Linked DNA regions of Homo sapiens. The protein of the gene in region 5 purifies or fractionates together with the protein of the main gene of each other region. This does not show direct contact. Each region holds a gene or a part of one and is shown on either strand. Other genes may lie near its edges.

Region 1 (4,087 bases), on a different chromosome or scaffold from region 5:
CCCAGCAGAGTGCTGGAGTGAGAGTTAAACTTCGGGAAAGTTGCTCACATCTAGCAATTTGGACATTTGAAGTTCCTTAGGGTAAGACATCAGCCTGTCCTAGAGCAAAGAGGGCTGGAAGGTCCTGTGGTCTGTGGGCTTTGTGTTACGGACATGGAATGAGAGATAGAAAGACAGTTTTTTTTTTTTTTTTTTTTCCTCAGAGCAGAGGAGAATGAAAAGTCTGGATGATTTACTGGAGCCCTAGAAGAGAGTTCTTGTTCAGCTGGTGTCATTGCAGGGCAGAGGATTAAGTGTTTGGGTAGAGTGCTCTCCAGCTCAGATGGAATCTATCTGAGCCTGGTAACAGGCCAGCATCTGCTCTGGACCTTTCAGGAAGTGCTTGCTTAGAGTGTGGCCTGTTTTGTACCTGGCACTCTGAGGGCCAGGGTGTAGTGGAGATCCTCAGGCCTGGGTACTTGTAGGAGCCTGGAATGAGCAGGTCAGAGGCATATAAGTACATGAGTTCCTAGAGTATTGGTCCAATCCCCCGCCTTTTGCTAGAGAACATTGCTTGATGAGCTTTAGAGCCAGTGATTGACCAGTTCCAGGGTTATCCCCTGATGATCAATGTACTACATTATACCTGATTCCAGTCTCTCCTGAATTAAATGTTTCATTTCTTGTGGTGCTCCTGGAACATGGAGATCGCCCAATTTCTGCCTTGTTTGCATCTTCACTGTTCCCTAGTCTGGACCTTCTTTCTCACCCAGGAATCAGCTGACTTGGGCTGGGCAGCTGGCTGCCTCAGGTCCACTGATGTTTCTCTGGTGCCCTTGGTACTAATGATTGACATAAATTATGCCTAGTGCAGGGCTACCTGCCAACATCTGTCATCACATTCAGTCCTCCAACAGCCCTATGAGATATAGGTCCTAGTATTGTCTCTATTATATACATGGGGAAACTGAGGAATCCTATAACTTGTCCAAGGTCACAAAGCCGGGAAGTGGTATAGAATTGGGGTTTAACTCTTAGTATGTCTGACCCTAGGGCAGGTGTGCCTGTCCATTTGACTGTACTGCCTTGCCCTGAGCTGGACTGGCTGGTTATTTGTGAGTGCTGTCATGTCTAAGGTAGGAGTGACTGCCCATCTGAACTTAAGGGACCATGTTGCTGTTTTCTGGGTCCATGTTGCGTTCCTCCCTCTGGTGAGATCCAGCCAGGCGTGTCATGGACCTGCTTTATGAACCTTTGGTGTAACCCATGATAAAGTCCTTAACCTGGGCAGGCATGTTCTTCCTGGGCAAAGTGTGGCTTCCCTGTTTGGGAGTCCATTGCACTTTAAGGTAACAGATTATTGAGTAGGACTGGATAGCTGCAATATCTAGCAGAGTGTGTTTTGGGTTTGACTCTTGGTTCTGTCATTGATTTGCTGTCAGATGTCAGATATGTAGGAAACCTTCTCTCAGCCTCAGCTGTTTGTCATTTGTATCTATCTTATATCTGAAATGGAGGTAGTTATCTAGCTTAGAAGGTTTGGGTGAGAATTAGATAGTAGAAATGAAAGATTTTTGGAAACAAATAGTGCTTATCTCAGACTATGTTCCCAGGAAACAGCCTGAGACAGAGCTTAAGTACTTAATGCTTTATTGGAAGGTGTAATTGCAGGGCAGCCAGGGTGAGGGAAAACAAAAGTGAGGTGCAGGCCTGTGCGATGGCTCATGCCTATAATCCCAGCACTTTGGGAGGTCGAGATGGATGGATTGCCTGAGGTCAGGAGTTTAAGACCAGCTGGCCAATATGGTGAAACCCCATCTCTACTAAAAATACAAAAATTAGCTGGGCATGGTGGCACACACCTGTAGTCCAAGCTACTCAGGAGGCTGAGGCAGGAGAATCCCTTGAACCTGGGAAGTGGAGGTTGCATTGAGCCAATATTGTGCCACTGCACTCCAGCCTGGGCGACAGAGCGAGACTGTCTCAAAAAAACAAAAGAAAAAAGTGAGGTATAAAGGAGGATGGGAGGTGGTGTTTTAGCAAGCTGGCTACTCTGCACAGAGATGTACTTGGTTACCCTATGAGGGCCCTTTGGTAGCCACTGGGGAGGCCAGTCTGGTACTTCAACAGAGTCTGGAGATAGTGAGAGGAGCCAGAGATTCTGGCGTGGGCCTGGATAGTCTCCTCCACTGGGCTGAGGCAAAGTAAATACCCTGGGACCTGGGAGATGGGTGAGACCAAGAGGTTGCAAGGTGGGACGTAAGATGCATCCAATATAGTGGTATATGGATTTTATCCTCAAGTGTAGTTCCCTTTTGTGGGTTAGTCTCATCCAGACTGCCAAGTCTCTGCCAAGACTATGACTGAAAACCCAACTTGGCTTTTGCATGTCAGTTTTAACAGCCTTCTCTGCTACTTCATTGTCTAGTTACTGAAGCAAGACTTTGTGGTGGTGATGGTACCCAGGTGGGGAAGTGGAAGTCAACCACTATTCATGTACCAGACTGAGAAAGTATGTGGATAGATACAGATAAACATCTTGGCTTTATTAGGTTCTTCGTGAAGGAGAATATTTTTTCACATAAAGTAGTTGTTGAAGATACGAAACCTGGCATGGTGAGATGAGGCTAGAGAGGGCAGTAGGGCCTGGTCACACACTCAAAAGGACCCTTTGGGCTAAAGAGTTTGAACTTTATCTTGACGGCAGTAGAGAGCCAAAGGAGGGCTTTGATAAACCATGCTGGCTACTTTGTAGAGCAGAGGTGGGAGGAAGGCCAGATGACATGTGGAGAGGCCAGTGTAGTGGGGGCCAGGATGCCTGTAGGGGAAGTTAGGGGTGGCTCAGATCAGGGTGATGACTGAGGCTAAGGAGAGTAGGGTACCCCCCATACTTGCCTAGGGTGCCGTGGCAGCAGCTTATAGGCCTGAATGGACATCCATGTGCTTTGGTGGCAGGGTCTCCTGGAGCCTCTGGATCCTCTTAGGCTGAACACACAGGTCCTTTCAGCCCTGTTATCCTAGAGTTGGAGGCAGCGGGGAGCCGTGTCCAGTTAGGTTTTCCCCCTTCACAGAAGGCAGGCAGGTTCTTGTTCAGTGCCAAGCAAGACCAGTTTGTTCTCAGCAAGCTCATGTTCTGTCTCTAGGCTGTTAAATACATTGTTAAAACTCAGGCTGTTGCATTTGGGTTGCAGCTGGGAGCTTGGCAGAGATTCTGCCTGATGAGGTAAGGAGAGAAGCTAAGGACGCTGCTGGTTTGCAGCTGGAAACATCTTTTCATGGCCATTTGGCCAGATTGTAAATGTCTTTTCCAAAGTTCAGGTTTGGTGGGACCTCTGGTTGTATGTCTTGGAATTGCCCTGTGTTTAGAAACAGTGCCAGTCGCCTGATGGGTGAATCACTGTTGCTGGGATGTTGGCAGGTTTTGCAGGACTTTCCTGTGGGGGTCCAAACACTAGGGCTGGCAGGGCCCGTTTGGAGTCTGTTTGAGAAGGGCCTGCTTTGTTTTCTTTACATTTTAAGCATATGATAAAATAATTTTAAAAATTGCTATAGAATTTCTTGTAGAAAGATTAGAGAAACAAGCATAAAAATAAAAAGAAATTATTTCACCAAGATATAGCCAGATGTATGACTCTTTTCTTGCATCTCTCTATATACACATATACATTAATTTTTCCTTACAAAAATGGAATTATAGAGTGCATATTATTGGGGCCCACTTTTCTCACTTAACAGTATGCTTAGATCTCTTCATGTTGATATATAGTATTCATTTTTAATATACTCCATAAAAACTCATTGTATAGAAGAAATGTAAAATCTTCTATTGTTGTAGTTTCCTAATTTGAACAAGTCTGTGGTGAAGTATTTTTTGTTGTGTTCCTGGTATGGGACAGACATTGTTCTAAACTCTGGGGATGCAGCACAGATAAAACTCAGTATTGGTTTTCTGCTCAAGATGTCACTTTGTTTTTCATAAAAGTGGGTTTGACATTGTTCACCTCCAGACTTATTCCAGTTGGATTCTGAGGGTTTCTGGGAGGGCTTTTAGCAGCACTGGACACTTTGTAGGGGCACTCAGCAGGTACACATACTTTCACCTACTCTG
Region 2 (4,087 bases), on a different chromosome or scaffold from region 5:
TTGGGAGGCCTAGGCGGGCGGATCACGAGGTCAGAAGCTCAAGACCAGTGTGGCCAACACAGTGAAACCCCGTCTCTACTAAAAATACAAAAATTAGCCAGGTGTGGTGGCGGGCACCTGTAATCCCAGCTACTTGGAAGGCTGAGGCAGGAAAATTGCTTGAACCCAGGAGGCAGAGGTTGCAGTGAGTTAGATCCTGCCACTGCACTCCTCCAGCCTGGGGGACAGAACTAGACTCCATCTCAAAAAAAAAAAAAAAAAAAAAAAAAGGGATGCGGCTGGGAGGAGGGAAGTTTGGCAGGGATAGGCTACAACTCCATGGCTCTGGGCTGTGGTCACTTACTGCTTCGTCTGGGGGCATCCACCCTCCAGGGCCCTCAACCACGCCCTTTTCTCCATACAGGGAGTTTGAGGACATCACCAATGCGAGCTTTCATCTGGACATGTGGTGAGTGACCTGGCCTGCCCCTAGGGATGGGAAGGGAAGGGATCTGGGGTGAGAGAGGCGGAACCTCCTCCTGGAAGAGGTCGTAGGCACTCTCTCTGCTTCCTTCTCAAACCTCTGTCCTGCCAGGGACCTGGACACTGTGGAGTCTGTCCGACAGAAGCTTGGGGAGCTCACGGATCTGCATGGGCTTCGCAGGTTCGTGTTGCAGGGCTCACAGGGAAGGGGTTGGGGCTCCTTTTGCCCTCCATCCCCCAACATGCACACTGGATGCTGGGGTGCAGGCTCCTTTGGGGTCCAGGTGGCTGCGGCCGGGGGTGGATTCCAGCCTAATCCCTTCCGACCCTTGCTGCGTCCCCCTTATGGGACCCTGCCTGACGCAGGATCTTTAAAGAGGCCCGGAAGGACAAAGGCCAGGACGACTTTCTGGGGAACGTGGTTCTGAGGCTGCAGGTGAGGAGGATGAGGAAAGGGGCCCAGGAGCGAGGCAGAGGGAGGGGGTTGGGAGGGGTTCTGGGGAGAGGCTCTGTGTCCTCACAAAGCTGAGCCTGGGGTCCACCTCCTGTCGCCTCCGCTGCCCCGACTCTATGAGGTTCTGACGCTCACGGGCTGGGCATCCCCGCCTGTCAGGACCTGCGCTGCCGAGAGGACCAGTGGTACCCCCTGGAACCCCGCACTGAGACCTACCCAGACCGAGGCCAGTGCCACCTCCAGTTCCAACTCATCCATAAGCGGGTAGGTCGGGTACTGGGCCAGTGGCCATGCCCAGCTCTTGCGGCGGTCTGCTGGGTTGCGGGGCTGGCTGCACCCAGTGTGAGGCCCTGTCTGCTCACAGAGGCCTCATTGCAGAGAGCCACTTCGGCCAGCCGCTCGCAGCCGAGCTACACCGTGCACCTCCACCTCCTGCAGCAGCTTGTGTCCCACGAGGTCACCCAGCACGAGGTATTGCCCTCCTGGGGCTGGGCGCAGCCGGGGCTGCCCTTCAGGTCCTGACACTCCTCCACCTGCTCCCCTCAGGCGGGAAGCACCTCCTGGGACGGGTCGCTGAGTCCCCAGGCTGCCACCGTCCTCTTTCTGCACGCCACACAGAAGGACCTATCCGACTTCCACCAGTCCATGGCGTGAGTACACAGCCCTGGGCAGAACCCCTGAGCCACCAGCCCCCCACGCCCCCTGCCCTCCTCCAAGCCGGTAGCCCAAAGTGTAATTCTCAGCAGAGTTCCCTTTGGCCCAAAATGTGTGTTTTAAGTTTTGAATCAGTTGCCAATTTTAAAAAGTCTAGAGATTCGGCTGATGCGGTGGCTCACTCCTGTAATCCCAGGACTTTGGGAGGCTGAGGCAGGAGGATCACTTGAGCCCAGGATTTCAAGGCTGCAGTGAGCTATGATCACACCAACACTCCTGCCCGGATCACAGAGTGAGACCTCATTTCCAAAAAATATTAGAAAAAGCTATCTGGAGATTTGACATACCATCCAGATCTCCAGCTTCTCATGAAACACAAGTGCTGGAACTGCAGGGTCATCATTTTGCTGCTTTTTTTTTTTTTTTTTGAAACGGAGTTTCACCCTTGTTGCCCAGGCTGGAGTGGAATGGTGCAATCTTGACTCACTGCATGCAACCTCTGCCTTCCAGGTTCAAGTGATTCTCCTGCCTCAGCCTCCCGAGTAGCTGGGATTACAGGCATGCGCCACCACGCCCAGCTAACTTTGTATTTTTAGTAGAGACGGGGTTTCTCCATGTTGGTCAAGCTGGTCTCCAACTCCCGACCTCAGGTGATCTGCCTGCCTTGGCCTCTCAAAGTGCTGAGATTATAGGCATGAGCCACTGCACCGAGCCATTTTGCTGCTTTTTTTTTTTGAGACAGAGTCTTGCTCTTTCGCCCAGGCCGGAGTGCAGTGGCACGATCTTGGCTCACTGCAGGCTCCGCCTCCTGGGTTCACGCCATTCTCCTGCCTCAGCCTCCCGAGTAGCTGGGACTACAGGCGCCAGCCACCGCGCCCGGCTAATTTTTTGTATTTTTAGTAGAGATGGGGTTTCACCGTGTTAGCCAGGATGGTCTCGATCTCCTGACCTCATGATCCGCCCGCCTTGGCCTCCCAAAGTGCTGGGATTATAGGCGCGTGCCACCGCGCCCAGCCTTTGCTGCTTTTTTGAGTGGACAGAGCGGAGCGATGTGTGTGCCTCTGCCCATCATGGCTGCCATTGGGCCCACTTCAGTTGCTTTCGTCTCCTGAGTCCTGGGCATTTGAATTTGGACCCGGTCCCTAACCCCAGCCCCGCTTCCCAATGCCATAGCCTTCAACTCAGCAAAACTACGCGCTGATAAGGACAAATCTATGTTGAGGGCAACTCACGTCAAGTCCTAGGAATGCCGGGGAGGGCACAGGGGGTCACAGCCATTCCAGTGCATGTGAGTAGGGCAGAGATGGGACATAGCCGGCCGGGCACGGTGGCTCGCGCCTGGAATCCCAGCACTTTGGGAGGCCGAGACAGGCAGATCACTTGAAGTCAGGAGTTTGAGACCAGCCTGGCCAACATGGTGAAATCCTGTCTCTACAAAATATAGAAAAATTAGTCAGGTGTGGGGGCGCATGTCTGTAATCCCAGCTACTCGGGAGGGTGAGGCACGAGAATCACTTGAACCCGGGAGGTGGAGGTTGCAGTGACCTGAGATCACACCACTGCACTCCAGCCTGGGCGACACAGCGAGGCTCTGTCTCAAAAAAAAAAAAAAAGAGATGGGACACAGCCAAGTGCTGGCCAGGGGAGGAACAGGAGCAGGATGCCGACTCAGGCCTGGGCTGTGACTTGGAGTCTGAGTGGGAGGCGGAGGGAGCCCAGGGGAGTGCATTTCTGGGCTGGGGTCAGCTTGTGTACTGCTAGGACCTCAGGCAGGTGGGTGATTCGGAGACAAGGGTGGAATGGTGGTGCGGCTGGAGACTGGAGCAGGCACCAGATGGGGAGGGACCTGGTTTGCCTGCAGGGCCCAAGCACAGTAATGCAGGTGGCTGCAGTGTCCAATAGGGACTTCGGCCTGTCCCCAGGCTGCTCCTCTCCCCCATCCTCTGCCCTCCCACGGGACCTCGTTTGTGTGATATCCCCCCAAACCATCTGAAAGGAAGTTCTCACTGATGCTTGCCACATGTGCACGAAGGCTCAGGTTCATAGATCCTATTTTTCTTTTCTTTTCTTTTTTTTTTTTGAGCTGGAGTTTCCCTCTTGTCGCCCAGGCTGGAGTGCCATGGCACAATCTCAGCTCACTGCAACTTCTGCCTCCCAGGTTCAAGTGATTCTCTTGTCTCAGCCTCCCAAGTAGCTGGGACTACAGGTGCCTGCCATCACACCTGGCTAAATTTTGTATTTTTGGTAGAGATGGGGTTTCACTATGTTGGCCAGGCTGGTCTCAAACTCCTGACCTCAGGTGATCCACCCGCCTCGGCCTCCAAAAGTCCTGGGATTACAGGTGTGAGCCACTGTGCCCAGCTAATCCAATTTTTCAAAAACAGCAAGAAATCCTGAAGTTTTAAAATCACAAAGATCTCAATCTGGGCAATTTGAAAAGCATCTATGGAAACAAAGAAAAAAAATCCTGGCTGGTCACAGTGACTCATGTCTGTAATCCCAGAACTTTGGGAGGCC
Region 3 (4,087 bases), on a different chromosome or scaffold from region 5:
CGGCCTGTATGCATCCTTCTTTAAAGATTGTCCTTTTGGATTCATTTTGTTTCATAAGGCTTCATCAATTTGTATTAAGACCATAACTTTCTCTTAAAAGGTTGTTTTGTTTCATTATAGTTTTATGAACAAAGAACAAACACAGCTTCTTCAAATTTTAGGAGAGTCTGCAAGCCATGAAAGCCATGAAAAAGTGTTGGGTTTTGGAATATTAATGGAGTTTTAGAGATCTGGTATATCAATCCTTTCCTAAAGTAATAAATAGGAAAAGTTAACTTTATCTTTAAATCACAGAATTATAACTTAAAGTTTTTATGTTACCTTTACAGAAAAAGATGCTATGGACGTATGGTGCAATGGTAAAAAATTGGAGACAGCGGTAAGTTGACTATTTGATGACTCTAAGTGCCATGTGTCTCAGTTACCATTGAATTGTTGCTGCATTTCCTAATTATAGAGATCTTATAATGAATCAAGGCCCTCTTGATAAAAACAAAAAAGGGATTAAGTACTCCTGACTTCAGATTCTGAAAACCTTTGCCAGATGGTGCCTGGTACCGTGAGTTTGGAAACAACTCATGTTCTTAGCTGGCACTAGCTTCATACTCTCCCTTTCCTGTCCTGGACCAGGCTCCAGCATAGCAAGTAAAATACCTAAAAAGAGCCCCTAGTTAAAAAATTATATCCCCAGAGGTTGGTGTCCTCTTGTGTTGATCCATTTGAAGTGGTGCGTTATCACTGCTTCTCAAACTTGCATGCACAGAAATTGCCTGGAATCTTGTTAAAATGCTAATTCTAACATTTCCCTAGGTGCTGCTAATGCTACTGGTCCACAGATCACACTTTAGGAATGCTTTACACCATACACTCAAAGCAGATGGTTCTTTTCTGAAAGCGAGATTTTTGTAAAATGAGTGATACAATATCAGATGACACGAAGGTAGACGAACAGGAAAGGGCACTCTCACGAACCCCGGAGGACAAGTGGAATTTTAGACCAGCAGTGCCAATGCGAGGAGAAAGAGGCTCCCCCAGTCACTGTGGCCAGGCACACTGAAATCCCCATCTAGATAGACTCCAGTGTGTTTGACTTTTGCTATCAGGTGCTTGGATTACTATGGCTGTGGATGGGATGAATGTAGGAGTGAATTTCAAGCAGGAGTGAAACAGTAGTAGTGTGCACAGGGGAGAGAGTGGGAAACAGAAAGTGTGGGACTAGGAGCCGAAATCACTGGGTGGTAATCCCCATGTCTTATGGGGTCTGTGGGCCAAGCAGGGAGTGCTATCCCTGGGACCCACCTTTCATGCTGGCTCCAGATGTGAACATCAGGGCTAGAGATAATCGGAAGCTCTCTTCTCTGGTCACATTTTGCATGTTGTAGTTGCTTTTATCTCATTTGTATAGTATAGGTTTAAGACAGTGAGAAAAGGTGATTTTGGTAGTTGGAGGAAAGGAGGTCTGGGATTAATTCATTCAGAAGACCACCTAGAACCTACTTGGTCTGATAGCTGTTTCTGAGGAGGTGACAAAACCAGAAATCAAAAATTACAAAGATGAAGCCACACGTGGTAGCACAGGTCTGTAGTGGCTTCCTACTTGGGAGGCTGACGTGAGAGGGACCCTTGAGCCTAGGAGTTTTAGGCCAGCCTGAGCAACATAGTGAGACCCATCTCTAAAAAAATTAATCAATCAATTGAAATTTAAAAGTTACGAAGATGAATGCTTTTCTGTTTCTGAGTCCTGAAGAATTTAATTTGGGCTCACTCTAAATTGAGTGCTTGAGCTGTTCTCTGGGTTAAATCTACTGATAGAGACTTCTTTTATGCAGAGAGGCTTGGAGAGTGCTTCAGTATTTTATGGCCCCCTTTGGAAAAACTCCAGTTACCACTAACATGGATCAGATACCTACTGTGTGCCCAATGCCATACCTGGTGGTTCTTCCTGTTCTTTTTTTCCTACCCTGGAATTCTCTAGATAGGGAATCAGCACTTTTGAATTGCATTTCCTCCCATATTCAAGAAATTCTCCAGTGCACATGTAAAGAGAATGCTGTTTTATGGTATTAAGAATATGGTTGTACTGGGCGAGGTGACTCATGCATGTAATCCCAGCACTTTGGGAGGCTGAGGCGGGCAGATTGCTTGAACCTAGGAGTTAGAGACTAGTCTGGGTGACATGGCGAAACCCCTCTCTACTAAAAATACAAAAATTAATAGAGCATGGTGGCACATGCCTATAGTCCCAGCTACTCAGGAGGCTGAGGTGGAAGAATTACCTGAGCCCAGGGAGATTGAGGCTGCAGTGAGCCAAGGTTGCACCACGGCACTCCAGCCTCGGTAACAGAATGTGAGACCCTGTCTCAAAAAAAAAAAAAAAAATGCAGTTGTAACTTTGGGAGGCCAAGATGGGAGGATCATTTGAGGCCAGGAGCTCATGACCATCCTGGGCAACATGATGAGGCCCTATCTCTATAAATTTTTTTTTTTAAGTTAGCTGTGTATGGTGGTGTGTACCTGGTCCCCGCTGCTCAGGAGGCTGAGGCAGGAGGACTGCTTGAGCCCAGGAGTTCAAGGCTGCAATGAACTACAGTTGTACCCCTGTACTCCAGCCTGGGTGGCAAGAGCAAGACCCTGTCACACACATACACAAGGAATGTTGTTGTGGTTGTAAAAAGGTGAAAATAATATTCATCCACATGTCTTTGTTTTGTAGTAATTAACAGGAAACTACATGTGTTTGGAAATAGCTCTTTATAACACAGTTGCCTTCTCATTGTAACTACAACCTAGTTTGCAGGGCAGTTTGGGCAGCCCCATATCTAGGCAGCCTTCCCCAGTACTGTACGTACCCACAACAAACTCATCTTGTTGCCTGTGAGTTACAGCTTATTTTCTCCTTTTTATCTCAAAGCATCGTGCCAAAATTATATATTTGTCCAATTGCCAAGAAGCTACGTATATAGATTGTATTACCTAACCCTTGCCCTTTCTTCCGAAGTCTTTTTTCAAGGCTCAATATTAAAAATGGGGACAAGAACACACTGCACCCAAGGACATGCTTGTGGTATTCAGCATACCTCCCATAAGGAGCCACGGGCCACATCCTTCCCAGAGCTAGGAAAAGGCTTCTCTCCCTGAGGCATCCTGTGCCTTCTTTGGCTTGGTTTGTTAACTGGGGGGCCTTGTTCTATCTACTTTGGCTGCCAGGAAGCTAATAGCCAGGGGGTTTAAGTCTGATTTTTGGTTTCTTTGCTTTCTGGCATAAATCTTTTTTTTATCCTCTAAGCCTCTTCTTTCTTCCTTCCTTCTCTGCGCTACCTGGCGCTAATCTTTTTACTCTAGATCACTGCTACTCAATCAAAGCATAATATGAGGCACAGATAGGACCTTCATGTGTAATTTTAATTTATCTAGTATCCATATTTGAAAAAATTTTAGGTGAAGTTAAATATTATATTTGATTTAAATCAATATACCAAAAATAGTATTTAACATGTAATCAGTATAAAAAGTTATTTTATACATTTTTTTGTTTCATACTAGGTCTTCTAAATCCAGTGTCTATTTTATATTTAAACAGCATATCTATTTTCAGACTAGTCAATTTGAAGTGCCCAATAGCCACATGTGGCCAGTGGCTACTGTATTGAACAGAACAGGTATAGATTTAGTGGTGTTTGGTTTTGTTATATGTATATTTTACTGTAAGCCACCTTATACCCAGAGGAATCAGATTTTCAGAGTGGCTAAGAACACTCCATCCCTGGCTGGATGCAGTGGCTCACACCTGTAATCCCAGCACTGTGGGAGGCTAAGGTGGGTAGATCACTTGAGGTATATTATAAATAACTAATAAATGTCATATTTATCATTTTTATTTTTGAAAACATAGACACATAGTCATGAGGTTTATATTCCTCCCCCAAGAATTTAAGATTCTTAAGGATTGTAGGGGTTATGAAAAGGAAACTTTCAATTCATAACAGAAATGTAAAAGCATCTAAGTACAAGCTTTAGACTTTGTTTTTCAAAGCTTATTGTTTAACTAATACATTATTTTATTGCACTACTAGTACTTTTAGATGGT
Region 4 (4,736 bases), on a different chromosome or scaffold from region 5:
AGTAAGAAGAATCTGCTACCTGGTGAAAGGAGATGGCAAAGGAAGTTCTCTCTCTTGACTTGGGTGGGAAAAACTAAAGACTGTTCCTTAAAAATGAAAACCACATGTCCTCTTACATGTATTTGGGGTTCAAAGTTGCACCATCTAGATGTTGTGGATAATCCCTGGATAAGAAATTACACTGACTGCAATTCTATAGTGTACAAGAACATCTACTGGAAACAAAGCAAATCCTCTTTGGAAGGACACAGCGTCTACACAGGCATTCCAAGCTTCACCAGAAATGAGCTCACAATCCAAAATTACAAGACCCAAGAGGTAATACCACTCTGAGTTCTTGGATAACAACAAACTATACAGTTTCTCAAGAGCATTCGGAATTAGAATAATTAGTTATAGAGTACTAAATAAGTATGTTTAACACGTTTAAAGAAATAAAAGGTAGGGGGAAAAACATGAAAGAACAGAATGCCATCTAAAAGGCAGAGAAGCTTGGAAAAGAACAAAATAGTGAAATATAAGTATTTAAGTGGATATTTCAATGATGCTTAAACAGCAGACTAAATACAACTGAAGAGAGGACTTGGAGGTAATCTGGCATCACCCAGAAAGACACACGGCTTAAGAGACATGGAGGACAGAGTGAGAAGGTTGACAACGTGTCTAGATGAAGAGAATCAGGAGACAAGTGGGAGAACATATTCCCAGGAAGTGCCCAAGAAGCTTCTGGAGATCATAAAAAGCATGACTTCTGATTCGGGAATCATAGTGTATCCTGGGTAAGATTATATTTTTTATTTTTTATTTTTATTTTTAATTTTATTTTTTTTTTTGAGACAGAGTTTCACTCTTGTTGCCCAGGCTGGAGTGCAATGGTGTGATCTTGGCTCACCGCAACCTCTGCCTCTCAGGTTCAAGCAATTCTCCTGCCTCAGCCTCCCGAGTAGCTGGGATTACAGGCATGCACCACCACGCCCGGCTAATTTTGTATTTTTAGTAGTGACGGGGTTTCTCCATGTTGAGGCTGGTCTCCAACTCCTGACCTCAGGTGATCTGCCCGCCTCGGCCTCCCATAGTGCTGGGATTACAGGCGTGAGCCACTGCGCCCAGCCTGGGTAAGATTATTAAAGAGAAATCTATGCCTGGACACACAGTGGTGGGATCACAGGGCACTAGGGACAGACACTTTTATAGCTGCCATAAGAAAAGACAGACGAGCAGTAGTTCACCTAGCTGCGGAATTCTCAACGGGAACCAGAGGACAGCAGTATCGCGCCCTTAAAGCATGGCCAGAACACAAATGTCGACCTCGAAATGCTGCCCCAGCTAAACCAATGTCCAGCAACGGCCCAAGAAACAAGACAGAAGCTGCTTTCCACCGCGGGTTCCCACCACGAAGGGGTCTTTGGACTTCCAAAGGGTGCACGCTAGGGTGAAGAGTGCTGAGGGTGCCCCCAAAAAGGATGCACATCTGCGATGTCAAGGGACTTGGAGAGCAAAGAATTAGATGGGTAAAGTTGGGCAAATATGTAAAATAGTGGCAATAAAGGGTTGAGTTTGGCCGGTCATCAACAACGTGAATCCTGCCCACCCCCATGTATAGCCCCCCGCGCAGCGGTAGGAGCCCCAGCCCAGAACGCTGTGGCTCCCGTGAGCCCTCGCGCTGGCGGCGGGTGCGCAGGCGCCCGCGCGTGTACGGTAGGTTCTGGAACGCAGCCGCTGAGGGGTCTGGCGCCATGTTGGGGCTGAGGGGAAGGAGGAGAAGCTCCTGAAGCGGCGGGCGCGCAGCGGGAGTGGGAGTGGGGTCGGACCAGGGCAGCTAGAAGCCCTGCCCTTCCGCCTCAGCGGATCATGACCCGGGCGGCGGCCGCGAAGGTCGCGGTGGTGGGGGACGTGCCCTGGCGGGGCGGGCGCTGAAAGATGATGCCGTTTCCGGTGACAACCCAGGGACCACCGCAGCCGGCGCCGCCGCCGAATCGCTACGGCGTCTCCTCGCCTATCAGTCTAGCGGTCCCCAAGGAGACGGACTGCCTCCTCACCCAGAGGCTAATAGAAACCCTCAGGCCCTTCGGGGTCTTCGAAGAGGAAGAGGAACTGCAGCGCAGGATTTTAGTTTTGGAAAAATTAAATAATCTGGTAAAGGAATGGATACGCGAAATCAGTGAAAGCAAGAGTCTTCCCCAGTCTGTAATTGAAAACGTTGGAGGAAAGATTTTTACGTTTGGCTCTTACAGATTAGGAGTACATACGAAAGGCGCAGATATTGACGCCTTGTGCGTTGCACCAAGTCATGTGGATCGAAGCGACTTTTTCACCTCATTCTATGCTAAACTGAAACTACAGGAGGAAGTGAAAGATTTAAGGGCTGTCGAGGAGGCATTTGTGCCAGTTATCAAACTGTGTTTTGATGGGATAGAGATTGATATTTTATTTGCAAGATTAGCACTACAGACTATTCCAGAAGATTTGGACTTAAGAGATGACAGTCTACTTAAAAATTTAGACATTAGATGCATAAGAAGCCTTAATGGTTGCCGGGTAACCGATGAAATTTTACATCTAGTGCCAAACATTGACAACTTCAGGCTGACTCTGAGAGCCATCAAACTGTGGGCCAAGTGCCACAATATCTATTCCAATATATTAGGTTTCCTCGGAGGTGTTTCCTGGGCCATGCTAGTAGCAAGAACTTGTCAGCTTTATCCAAATGCAGTAGCGTCAACTCTTGTACGGAAATTCTTCTTGGTATTTTCAGAATGGGAATGGCCAAACCCAGTGTTACTGAAGGAGCCTGAAGAACGGAATCTTAATTTGCCTGTATGGGACCCAAGAGTAAATCCCAGTGATAGGTACCATCTTATGCCTATCATCACACCAGCATACCCACAGCAGAACTCCACATACAACGTGTCTATTTCAACCAGGATGGTCATGATTGAGGAGTTTAAACAGGGGCTTGCTATCACACACGAGATTTTGCTAAGTAAGGCAGAGTGGTCCAAACTCTTTGAAGCTCCAAGCTTCTTTCAAAAGTACAAGCATTATATTGTACTTCTGGCAAGTGCATCAACAGAAAAACAACATTTAGAATGGGTGGGCTTGGTGGAATCAAAGATCCGAATCCTGGTTGGGAGCTTGGAGAAGAATGAATTTATTACACTGGCACATGTGAATCCACAGTCATTTCCAGCACCCAAAGAAAATCCTGATATGGAAGAATTTCGTACAATGTGGGTGATTGGGTTAGGGCTAAAAAAGCCAGATAATTCTGAAATTCTCAGCATTGATCTCACCTATGATATCCAGTCTTTCACAGATACTGTTTATAGGCAAGCAGTGAATAGTAAGATGTTTGAGATGGGTATGAAAATTACTGCAATGCATTTAAGAAGAAAGGAACTTCACCAGCTGCTGCCTCATCATGTGCTTCAGGACAAGAAAGCACACTCAACAGAAGGTAGAAGATTGACAGATTTGAACGACAGCAGCTTTGACTTGTCTGCAGGCTGTGAAAACAGCATGTCTGTGCCTTCATCTACTAGCACTATGAAGACAGGCCCATTGATTAGCAGTTCTCAGGGTAGAAACAGTCCTGCCTTGGCTGTAATGACAGCATCTGTGGCTAACATACAGGCTACTGAATTTTCCTTGCAACAGGTGAATACCAATGAAAGTTCAGGGGTTGCATTAAACGAAAGTATTCCTCACGCTGTCTCTCAGCCTGCCATTTCTCCATCACCAAAGGCCATGGTCGCCAGAGTTGTTTCTTCAACATGTCTCATAAGCCATCCAGACCTTCAGGAAACTCAGCAACAAACATATCTAATCCTATAGTTGGAGTCTAGAGGATATTCTTGCCTCATAAAGAAGAAAGGACCAAGAAAACCAAAACGGAAGAGGAGAAACTCAATACAAAGACAAGTACAACTCCATTAGAAAAATTCAGACAGCATCTTCTCTATTGGCCTCTCAGGGAACATCAGTATAGATCTTTCCGGTATCCCTGTTCTCCCTGCAAATCCAATTCCTGTTATCAAGAATTCAGTAAAACAGGTTGAATGGTTAAAAACAACCTCAAGGGTCCATGAACAATATCTGCCAACTGAACCTGTTGTCTTCAAATACTAAGGAAGGAGAATGAGGGGTACGGGACTAGATATGACTTGAAATAGATTGAGGCTCATTTGGTAACTTCCTTTACTGAGCCAGTCTTGATCAGAAGTCCACATTAGTATGTGACAGCTAGAGGTACTGTTATTAATGTATCAGCAACAGTTACATTAACTATTTCAAAGGACTACTGCCCTTAAAATGAAAAAACCTTTCAGCTATGTTTGTACCCGTGACTGACATCTGGACTGGATTTATGCTTGATGCATTGTTGGGAAAATATGCAATACAAACTGGTATCAGAATTCCTTATACTGATGAGGCACTTTATATTTTTTATTAGAAAGTAGAACTAATTTTAGATTTTTCAAATTGGTGAATTTTATTTTTCCCTGAAGAGGTTTCTTCACTATTAATCTTAAAATTGGATACCATTGTGCAGCGGTGTACTGTACTTCAGAGAAAGCATAAAAGTACATCTAGCTCAGTCCCTATGAGGTAGCTGTAACCCTTTAAAATGAAATGTCAACTTTAAGGTATGTTTTTGACATCAACCATTAGTAGGTCTTTGGTTTTGATGGCACACTATGGAGAAAGGACACACTGGTTTTAATCTGTAGAACTGT
Region 5 (4,087 bases):
CTACTTGTTGAGCTTCTTGAGGAGTATTCTGAGGAGGCACCGAGGGAGCATTACGGTCCAAGCCTTTCATTACTGTCTCATATTCCTAGACAACAAGGATTTAGAATTCTTTGGTGAGCCAGGAACAACTGAGATATATGGCGGATGGGGTAGATCAGTTTGGAAGACTGTTCAAGATGCCTACTTTTTCCAAATACCACTTTGTTAATATAATCTAAAAACTATTTAAGAGTAGAGAGAAAGATAAGAGTATTACCCACTCAAGAACAGGTTCCCAGGAGTGGGTAAACAAAACACCCATGGGCCCTCTCTGTAAGTGATCTAGGAGGTTACTTTCCAGGATGTAAGAGTTGACAGATCAATAGGATTGAAGATCTGGTGGCATTATTATTGCCATCTTTGGAGAAACTGTCTTTTAAAATTTCAATAGTTTGTATTAATAGGCTATTTTTCCTAACTTCCAAGAGTGTCAATGAATGGAAAGGTATGCACACAATCAAAATGTGTCCCTGAGAGCTATGTTATTAGACCACAGAGTAATACAATATTCAGATGAACCCAAATAATAGAGGGAAAAGAATTACTTCATCAATTCTAAGTAGAGCCTTGTCTCTCTCTATGTCTTCTGTTTCCATATTTTAAAAAACAATTTCTTCTAAACCCAATTTATTATATTTTGTTCTTACAAAGAGAGATTTCATTTCAAATATGTCATCTCCTCAGACTTTGCAATTAATTGCTGTTAAGATTGCTAATGACTGAAAATATCAAGAGTAATACCAGACAGGGAAAGCTCTGCTGTAAACAACAGACTCATAATAATCATTAAAATAGCCTGATGGAATTCCATACCTTTGCTACACGTCTAGCATTCATATAATCTCTACTCCGATCTTCAATCATTTTTTTAGCTAAATGAATATTGATACCCTAGAAAAAAACAAAAATATTTTAAAATTAAGTATAGTTTCTTAAAAATTAGTACAATACAGTTAATTTATTCATTTACTAAATAACTTTAAATTTTTATTTTAAAAGATTTCTTGTTTAATAAAGGTTCATACAGCTCATGAAAAGCAGGGAAAAAAGGTTCAATCACATTATACATTTCCAAGATCAAGGAGGATGTGCTTATGTCTTATGAGCTGGCAGTAAGTTTCCATTTATCAGGAACTTTTAAAGATAGAATCATTTGAAAAGGCTCAATAATTTCATATAAGATTCTACTGAAAAAAAAATGACATGGCTCATGCCTGTAATCTTAGCACTTTGGGAGGCCGAGTTGGGTGGATCACTTGAGGTCAGGAGTTCATGACCAGCCTGGCCAACATGGTGAAACCCCGTTTCTACTAAAAATACAAAAAAATTAGCTGGGTGTGGTGGTGTGCGCCTGTAATCCCAGCTACTTGGGAGCTTGAGGCAGGAGAATTGCTTGAAATGGCGAGGCAGAGGTTGCAGTGAGCTGAGATCATGCTATTGCACTCCAGCCTGGGCGACAGAGCGAGACTCTGTCTCAAAGAAAAAAAAAATATGTACAGATTCATCTGGGTGAATAGCCATGGCTTGACTTTGATAGCCCTTTTCTTTTTCTTTTTTATAAACAGAGTCTTCCTCTGTCACCCAGGCTACAGTGCAGTGGTGCCATCCTAACTCACTGGAACCTTGAACTCCTGGGCTCAAGTAATCCTCTTGCCTCAGACATAGGACTACAGGTGTGCCCTGCCAGATCTGGCTAATTAAAAAAATTTTTTTTGTTGAGACATAGTCTTGCTATGTTGCCTGGGCTGGCCTCAAACTCCTGGCCTCAGGCAATCCTCCCACTTCAGCCTCCCAAAGTGCTGGGATTACAGGCATTAGCCATCACACCTGGCTAATAGCCCTTTTCTAACTAGTTCTGTTGTATAACACTTTTTAAAAAGACAAACAGAAGTAGCAAGGAAAGATAAACATTACCACTCAGTGAGTACTCCAAGGATTCTAAGACCCTTTCAGGGAGTCCATGAGATCAAAATAGTTGTCATTATAACACTAAGACATTATTTGCCTCTCTCATAAAATACAGGAGTTTTACAGAGGCTACGTGACATTTAGTATTATAACACACTAAATGGAAGCAGATATGAAAATCCAGCTGTTTTCTATTACACTAGATATGAAAGAGATTTGTGAAAATATAAAACAATGCCACTCTTCTCACTACACACTACATTTTTTGTTTTGGAAAATACAGTTTTTGGCCAGGCATGGTGGCTCGTGCCTGTAATCCCAACATTTTGGGAGGCCGAGGCGGGCTAATTGCTTGAGCTCAGGAGTTCAAGGCCAGCCTGAGCAACATGGAGAAACCCCATCTCTACAAAAAATTAGCTTGAGAGTGGTGGGGCATGCCTGTAGTCTTAGCTACCTGGGAGGCTGAGGTGGGAGAATCACCTGAGCCCAGGAAGTTGAGACTGCAATGAGCTGTGATTGTGCCACTGCATTCCAGCCTCGGTGACAGAGTAAGACCCTGTCTCAAAAAAATAAAAACAAAAAATTCTTTGTGATCTTCAATAACTGTTAAAATCCAAAAACCATAAAGTTTGAAAACCACAGCTGATGCCTGTGAGGGAACAATTTCACTACCCTATATAGTTCTTCCAAATCACAATATACATACGAAAAACTTTCTTTTTTTCTCTTTAGAGACGGGCTCTCACCATCTTGCCCAGGCTGGTCTCAAACTACTGGGCTCAGGCAATCCTTCCATCTCGGCCTCCCAAAGTGCTGGGATTACAAGTGTAAGCCACCATGCCCAGCCAAGGAACTTCCTTTTAATGCTAGAGCTTATTTGGCATGTGTATTTATGTATTCAGATTGATTAGCTCAGTTATTAAAAGTAGATACCAATAACACAAAGATCTTGGATTGTAGCCACACACTTCACAAATTCAAACCAATCATCACATCACTGTAATCAGGTGAAAAAGGTGCACAGCAACCAAAAAATAATTCCCAAAAGGTACTATTGGAAACATAATTCCCAAAAGGTACTGTTTTATAGGTCAATGACAATGTGTATGTGTGTGTATGAATGTGTGGATATGGCTTAGCAAAGAATAAAAATAGTTTTATAAGAACTATTGTTCTTCAGAGTATCCTCTAAAAAATAACACTATATGGAGACTCTCAAACCTTGCAAAAACATTATAGTGCTTTCATTACAATCAATAAAAAAAGTGTAACACTGATACAGAAAGGCTATAATCTACAAATCCACAATGCATAGAAATTAAAATGGCTTGGTTTATAATAAACAACTACTCTGACCTAATTTACCTCTTCATACTTGTTATAGTCTCTCCAGAGCTGTTCAATGTTGATCATCGGATTAACACAACCTCGTTGATAAACTCTTCGGACAGCTGTTATTCTTTGATTTTCTGCATAAGATCCTACAGCTTCCCTGAGATTGGATAAGAAATGCCATCAATTATATTATAACCAAATCTCATTCAACCCAGCAATCTCACTACTGGATATCTACCCAAAGAACAACTCTATGGAAAATAGTATGGAGATTTCTCAAAGAACTAAAAATTATATTTTAGCTAAATCAACTGTAGATGTAAAAAAAAACTATACAAATACTTACACGCCTTTTAGGAAATTGATGTAATCCACCCAAATCTAAGAAATAAAATGAAATGTTAATATCTTTCTTGGTATTCTTACATTTAAGTGCATACATTAAAAAGTTTTAACTCTACCTGATAGGACATAATTTCCATTCCAATTTTATCCAGTGCAAAGTCATATGCTTGAGCCATTTTTTCTCTGAAATGAACATGAAAGACGTGGTTTTTAAATTTTTTTGTTATTAAAATTTATCTACAATTAGGCCAGACATGGTGGCTCATGCCTGTAATCCCACTGCTTTGGGAGGCCGAGGCAGAAGGATCACTTGAGACCAGGAATTCAAGACCTGCCTGTGCAACATAGCAAAACCCAGTCTCTAAAAAAATAAAAATTAAAAAAATTAGCTGGGCATGGTGGCGTGCACCTGTAATCCTAGCTACTCGGAAGGCTGAGGTGGGAGGAGTGCTTAAGCCCA

The links.
Region 1: the proteins of CSTF3 (region 5) and P4HA2 purify together in Homo sapiens (co-immunoprecipitation; one large-scale study listed by IntAct). This does not show direct contact.
Region 2: the proteins of CSTF3 (region 5) and UNC13D fractionate together in Homo sapiens (co-fractionation; one large-scale study listed by BioGRID). This does not show direct contact.
Region 3: the proteins of CSTF3 (region 5) and FAIM fractionate together in Homo sapiens (co-fractionation; one large-scale study listed by BioGRID). This does not show direct contact.
Region 4: the proteins of CSTF3 (region 5) and PAPOLB fractionate together in Homo sapiens (co-fractionation; one large-scale study listed by BioGRID). This does not show direct contact.

What each region holds. Positions count from the first base shown.
Region 1 is NC_000005.10:132,221,160-132,225,246, reverse strand, and holds part of P4HA2 (prolyl 4-hydroxylase subunit alpha-2 isoform 2 precursor), read left to right. Parts: intron 1-4,087. UniProt on the Homo sapiens protein: Catalyzes the post-translational formation of 4-hydroxyproline in -Xaa-Pro-Gly- sequences in collagens and other proteins.
Region 2 is NC_000017.11:75,837,318-75,841,404, reverse strand, and holds part of UNC13D (protein unc-13 homolog D), read left to right. Parts: intron 1-403; coding exon 404-448; intron 449-574; coding exon 575-643; intron 644-828; coding exon 829-898; intron 899-1,075; coding exon 1,076-1,180; intron 1,181-1,294; coding exon 1,295-1,387; intron 1,388-1,462; coding exon 1,463-1,566; intron 1,567-4,087. UniProt on the Homo sapiens protein: Plays a role in cytotoxic granule exocytosis in lymphocytes. Required for both granule maturation and granule docking and priming at the immunologic synapse.
Region 3 is NC_000003.12:138,628,778-138,632,864, forward strand, and holds part of FAIM (fas apoptotic inhibitory molecule 1), read left to right. Parts: intron 1-329; coding exon 330-379; intron 380-4,087. UniProt on the Homo sapiens protein: Plays a role as an inducible effector molecule that mediates Fas resistance produced by surface Ig engagement in B cells.
Region 4 is NC_000007.14:4,858,995-4,863,730, reverse strand, and holds the start of PAPOLB (poly(A) polymerase beta), read left to right. Parts: upstream 1-1,700; 5' UTR 1,701-1,920; coding exon 1,921-3,834; 3' UTR 3,835-4,736.
Region 5 is NC_000011.10:33,102,255-33,106,341, forward strand, and holds part of CSTF3 (cleavage stimulation factor subunit 3), read right to left. Parts: intron 3,811-4,087; coding exon 3,744-3,810; intron 3,664-3,743; coding exon 3,629-3,663; intron 3,440-3,628; coding exon 3,313-3,439; intron 931-3,312; coding exon 853-930; intron 86-852; coding exon 1-85. UniProt on the Homo sapiens protein: One of the multiple factors required for polyadenylation and 3'-end cleavage of mammalian pre-mRNAs.